2 separate regions of the Homo sapiens genome follow, and region 2 is linked to region 1. A link means that fine-mapping ties the variant in region 1 to the plasma level of a protein whose gene starts in the linked region. Region 1 holds a variant in brackets. A gene starts in the other region. All regions are shown on their forward strands.

Region 1 (2,902 bases):
TAGCCCAGGTTCTGGAACGGTGCCTAGAATAGCTGCTCACTGTGTTTGCCAGATTAACTGATGGATATATGAAAACAGTATACTGCGTGACAACACCTTTGTTATTCCATAGGACATGGACATCTTCCAGCAACAGATCTCGAGAAGACAGCTGGCTAAAATCCTTATTTGTCCGGAAAGTTGATCCAAGAAAAGATGCCCACTCCAATCTCCTAGCCAAAAAGGAAACAAGCAATCTATACAAATTACAGTGTGAGTGACAGGTTTGCTATCTTCATAGTTGACTTTTTTTCCCCTTTGTTCCTAAGTTTATCGTTGAATTTTCTTTTGTTTCAGTTCACAATGTTAAACCGGAATGCCTAGAAGCATACAACAAAATTTGGTGTGTATACCAAACTATCCTTTACTTGGGGAAAAATAATGACTTTATTTGTTAGTTAATTCCACTAACACTTGATAGCATAGAGAGAGATCTTTCATCCCTCTCTTTTGAAGCTGAACATTCAGAGGCTCTTAAACTGAGCTTCATGTGGGATTGCCGAAGGCGTTTTGATTTTAAGCACTCACACAGCTAAATCATCATATAGGCTATCAGACTTTAGAATGTTACCAGACTCTTGTGTTTGGAGGAACTTTGCCAGGCTGTCTAGTCCATCTACTTATCCAGTGCTGGAGTCCTTTCCACAGACCTTCCTGACTGCCTGTCCTGAAGTAAGTTCCATCTCTGGACAGCTCTGAGTGTTAGGAATAAGAATTCACATCTCTGAGTCCTTCATTGATTCCCCTAAGTAAAACTGCCCTGTGAGAGTCCTGTATGTATTTGAACATAGCTGCCATTTCTTCCCAACTCCTCTGTTCTCCAGGATCCAAGTCCCTTCCGCTGATTCTCCTATGATTTGCGATCTAAACCTGCTTACAGAATTTGTAAACTTTAAGACGAAAGGGGAGAACTAAGCTTACCAGCTTTTAAGTTAACAGAAATAGTATTTTAATGACCCATGGTGAGCAAATGTGAAGAAAAAGGTTTTTAGTTTTGTTTTGTTTTTACCTTTAATATCTACTACGTTCTTAAGAAAGCAAACAATTTTGTCCCTATAATCAGCATACTTTTTAGAAGAAAAACCTTTTGTTTTTTATTGTTTTGTTTTTGAAGATAGCTTATGAAATGTAACAATAGCATTGAATTTCTTGCTCATTCCAGCACATTTCTCTTTATTAAAAAATGCCCTTAAAACAAAGCAGATGTTTATTTCTAAGTCTTTTCTCATAAAAATGGAATTTTTCCCTATGCCGATGTTGTCCTGGATTACCTTTTTTGTCCTGTCTTATCACTTCGTCTCCTGTCTCGGGTTTCTGGCTGTCTGTTCCTATTTCTATTTGATGTTGTGCTCTCACTTCACACCCAGCATGTAGAATCACCTTGCTCTTCCAACTTCCCTGTCTGTGCCACTCACCTTGTTTTACTCAGCCCGTTCCTTAGTTCTCTGTGGTGAATCTGTCACCTAAGCTGTGCATTCTTCATCGGACATGTATTTTGGTTCTCTTGTTTCCTTCTCCATCTCTCTCTCCAAGCCTCTCGAGCCCCATTCCCAAGTAGCTTTTTTTCTGACTACCTTTCTGGGCTCCAAGCTATACCTGTGTCTCCTTCCTGCCCTGCAATACATTACCCCAAAGTTTGTCAGATTGATCTGCTTGAGTTCTGTTTTCTTTTTTCATCACGTTTTTTCTTTTCTCTGAAACTTTCAGCAGCTCCCTGTTTGCAGAACATAAAGACTTAACTCCTGCCTGGTTTTTAGGGGTCCCAATAATGGGATTCTGCCCAACCCATCCAGTTCTGGGTACAAGTACTGCCTGCCTTACAATCT[C/T]CATTCAGGTAAGGCCAGGGCTCCTAAGAGCAGGTTTGGGGTCCCCAGCAAAGAGGAGTGGCTACAAATCCATGCGTGACTTTGTGTTGGTGAAAAACCTGGGCCCCGTTGCCAGGCCCCTTTCTGGACCCCACCTGAATCATGTGTACTGGGCTTCCTCCTGGGCACTGCCTCCAATGCAGGGTTGTCTATTCCTGCTCATGTCATGCGACGAAAAGGAAATGTTGGACATACATTTCCCTAGCAGAATCCCTCTTTCCCTGTCCTCGATTTTCATTGATCCCATGTTATTTCTGAACATTCATGAGTCACGCATCAGATACATTTAATATCAGATCCTAATTTAAAAAGTAAATGCTACTCTTCCAAAAGTACACATGATGTGGTCACTATACTGGGTCATAAAGATGTATGGGTTTTCAGTTAGTTAGACTTAGACCGTTTTGGAACTTTTCTCTGTTAACCATTTATGTATCCCTGGTCGTATGGAGCTCCAGTGGTGCAGTCGGTTAGCACATGGTACTTACATACCCTTGGTCCTGTAGCCCCAGCATCTGGTGGTGATCACTAGCTAAATATCAGAGTCAGCAAATAGTGTGAACAGGTTCCATTTCTTGCCCTTGATCCCCTTTTGCATCCATTGTTGAATCTGTATGATACTTTTTCATCATAATTTTTCTATTCAAAAAGTGTGCAGGTTTTAGCTTTTCTCTTGGTGTAAAACAGTTACACTCTTCCCTTTGCCTTTCCCTGTACATTAGAATCTATACCATAGGAAAGCTTCCATGGAACCAAGCTCCACTCTGACACCCCTGTTAAATTCATACACTGCCGTGACCTGTCATGGCTTTGTCCCTGTCCCTGCACAATGCGCGGGAATGAATTGGTTGGTGTGTTCGGTGCGAGACTACGTGACACCCCTCCCATCCCCTTGGCCCATTGAATTGAGTAGAACATAATTTATGCTTCGCATTGTATCTTTAATTTTTATTCTTCTGCCATGTTGATGCCCTTGGGGAGTATTGGAGGTTGGAGTC
Region 2 (2,902 bases), not on the chromosome of region 1:
GACTGACTCTTCTCCACCAAACACACCAAGCACACTCCCGCTCCAGGACCTTTGCAGTGGCTCTTCTGCTTGCAAGTCTTCTCCCCACAACCACGTGGCTCATTACCTCCTTTTCTTTGCCAAAAGAACTGCCCCAGCAAAGAGGCCTTTCCTAATAACTTTATGTAAAACAACACCTCGTCCCTTCATGCTTTGTCTGTAATGTGCTTTACTTTTCTTCATAGCACTAATCACCACCTGACATCATTTATATTTATTTGTTCACTTATCTTCTGTCTCCTTCACTAGAATCTGAGCTCCATGGGGGCAGGGATTCTTGTCCATGTTGTTTACTACTGTACCTCCGGTGCCGGCACATAGTAGGTGTTCAATAGGTATTTATGGGATGGATGACTCAAACCTTTCAGTGAATAAACAGTTCAGTGTTCTCATCAATCCATCCTGGTGCCCACCAAGCTAATAATATCACGGTAACAATGGCAGCTAATTTTACAGGAGCATTTCCTATGGGCCAGACCTTAGAAACGTTATCTCCTTACACAGGGCACTGCATTCACGCCTAGAACACTGAAATTTAGGTATAATCATGAGCTCAGAGGTCAGGCGACTTGCTCGAGGTCATAGGGGACGGCATCAGAAGAGGAACACAGACATTTAGCCTGACGGCAGAACTGTGTTCTAAAACCTCAAAGTCATAATTTGCCACACGCTGGAGAAAGAAAACAGTCGAAATGGAAGCCACCTGGCGAGCTCAGGGCGCCAGGTGGGAGCGCTGCTTCCCACATATGGGAGTCCGGCCCCATCGCTCTTTGATCTTTGCAGCGTCCGTGGCCCCACCGACCCCGTCGTGAGTTATGGGAGGCACGGGACCCATAACCCAGCATTCTCAGACTCCCAGGGTCGTCAGGACACGGCGCCCCGCGCGGTGATGGATGAGCCGGCCCCAGCGCTGGCTTTGTCCGGGTTGGGCCGGTCTGAGAAGCTTCAGGCCGGCTTTGGACGGGGCGTGGCGAGAGCCGCGCCGCGTGTGAGTGTGTGTGTGTGTGTGTTTGTGTGTGTGTGTATTGGGGCGGTTGTCTTTCTCCCTTCCCTACCGGGAAAGAGGGCACAGGTGCGCCGTCAGCGCCCCAGGTGAGCTGGTAGCACTTTGAAGACCCTTTGTACCCCTACATCCAGGAGCGACCTCTCGGAGAACCCCGCCTGCCCACTCTGCGCACTTTCTGCGGCTACAAAGGCCCCGCCGTTCCCCGTCCCGCCTCCCCCGCCCTGGGCATTTCTTCCGTCCCTTTTGACAGTCTAGGCGGAATAATCCTTTTGTGGCCCCGGGCCCCTGCCCTGACAGACGCGGCCGCAGCTGAGCGCGCAGCCTCGCTCCATTGTTGGGGTCCACCGAGGACCGCCCGCCGCGGCCCTTTGTCGCCCGCCCTGCGCGGGGCCGCTCCAGAGGCGCCACAACTGCCGGAGCCCCTCCCGTCCCACGCGCCCTGGGCCGCGCCGAGGCGGCTCTTACGCACCGGGAGGAGTGGGCCTGCCTCGCCCGGTGCCCGCACGGCTGCTGGGCTGCGCCCGCCTTTGTCTGCCTCCTTTGTCTGCCCCGCGCCCTCGCGGCGGCGGCGCCTAGGCCTCTGGGGAGCTGGCCCAGAACTCAGAGCGCAGCTGGCGAGGGCGCGCTGGCCGGGTGCGCGCCGGGCCCGGCCCCGGGGCTGCCCCTCGGCTGGGGGCAGTCGAGCCCGCCACCCGCCGCCCCTCCTCTGTCCCCTCCCCGCGCTCCCGCCCCCTTCCCTCCTGCCCGCCCACTCCCCCTTCCTTCCAGTCCCGCTCAGCCCGGGCACATCCTCCGGCTGCCCGCGCACCTCTCCACGCCGGCCCCGTTCCGCGGCTCGCCCTCGGCTGCGCTCGGCTCCCGCGGGCGCTCGGCCCCGAGCCCCTCCTCCCCCTACCCGCCGGCCGGACAGGTAAGGCACGGCCTCGGCCCGCCCCTGGCTCCGCCCCTCCCGCCCCACCTGGCTGCGAGCCCGGACAAAGGTGGGCTACCTGGCGCGCCCAGGGGCGGGGTGCGCGGGGTCCCGAGGCTGGAAGTGAGGATGCTGCCTCCTTCCCAGCCCTCGGACCCGTCTATCCGCCAGTCCTTCCGCCGCCTCCTCTCCTCGCCGCGTCTGCCCACGGACCCTGGCTCTGCTCCCGGGCTCCCCATCCGTCCACCTACCGCTGGACGCCCACTTTTCCACGCTCTGACACTCGGCCTCGCGCGCGCCCTCGCCGCCCTCTGGGGTCCCGGCTCGCACCTACTCTCCTCGGCACTAGCCTTCTCTCTCCCTGACCCAGTCTCCCTTTGTCTCTCTGTCTCTGAGTCTCCGGGTGGTCTCTCAGGCAGGGGGCCCCAGTCCGCCACCGTTGGAAGAAGTCTTCGAAGACTCCCTGAGCCCCGGGCAGAGCTGGCGGGCGTGCCCTCCAGCCCCTTTCGAGGCCGCCCAGGAGGCTGGGGTGTGTGGCCGGGGTCGCTGAGTGCGCCCGGAACCAGCACCGCCGGTGGCCCCGCGCCGTCCCATCTGTGCCCAGGAAGGTACTCAGCCTGGCTCCCCCGACGGCGCTGGTCTTTCGCCTGTGGTCTCCCGCTCTGTCCCTCCTGCTCCCCACCGCCGGCTTTTGGCTTTTCTCCGTCCGCTCGTCAAGGGTCTCAGCCGCCTTCGGGGCCGGGGTATGAGATGAGAGAGGGCTGGGGTTTCCCGCCAAGTCTTTCTTGCTTTCCTCAGCTGGGTGCTCCCTGGGCCATCCTCTCCGCCCGGTGGTCTCCCCTGCCCTATATGCTCCCTCCACGCTGCCCACCTCCCAGCCCAGTGACACACTGGTGTCTGGAACCGGTTCAGTACTATGCATCTGGAGTCGGGTACACTGGGGCTCT

Which allele goes with the higher level. Alleles are on the strand shown, and positions count from the first base shown. The strength of an association depends on the size of the effect and on how common the allele is.
In carriers of allele T in region 1, the plasma level of the protein whose gene starts at base 1,812 in region 2 tends to be higher than with C alone (weak association).

The links. A credible set is the group of variants that fine-mapping cannot tell apart. PIP is the chance, under the fine-mapping model, that this variant and not a neighbour inherited with it causes the effect. The UK Biobank Pharma Proteomics Project read protein levels with antibody pairs (Olink). The fine-mapping took linkage between variants from a reference panel, not from the people measured, so its PIPs are less certain.
Region 2: DRAXIN starts here. The variant in region 1 is the best candidate, but not a certain one, in a credible set for the plasma level of the DRAXIN protein (UK Biobank, PIP 0.59).

Annotation. Positions count from the first base shown.
Region 1 is chr7:55,978,014-55,980,915 of GRCh38, forward strand. It overlaps NIPSNAP2 (nipsnap homolog 2), which reads left to right. Exons shown (of 10, transcript NM_001483.3): 2 at 113-252; 3 at 337-382. Among named protein-coding and RNA genes, the nearest start is that of NIPSNAP2, 15 kb to the left of the region's middle. The variant C/T (reference allele first, on the strand shown) is at 1,866.
Region 2 is chr1:11,689,899-11,692,800 of GRCh38, forward strand. It overlaps DRAXIN (dorsal inhibitory axon guidance protein), which reads left to right and starts at 1,812. Exons shown (of 7, transcript NM_198545.4): 1 at 1,812-1,955. It also overlaps a transcript of MAD2L2 not described here. RefSeq lists enhancers at 110-619, 620-1,127.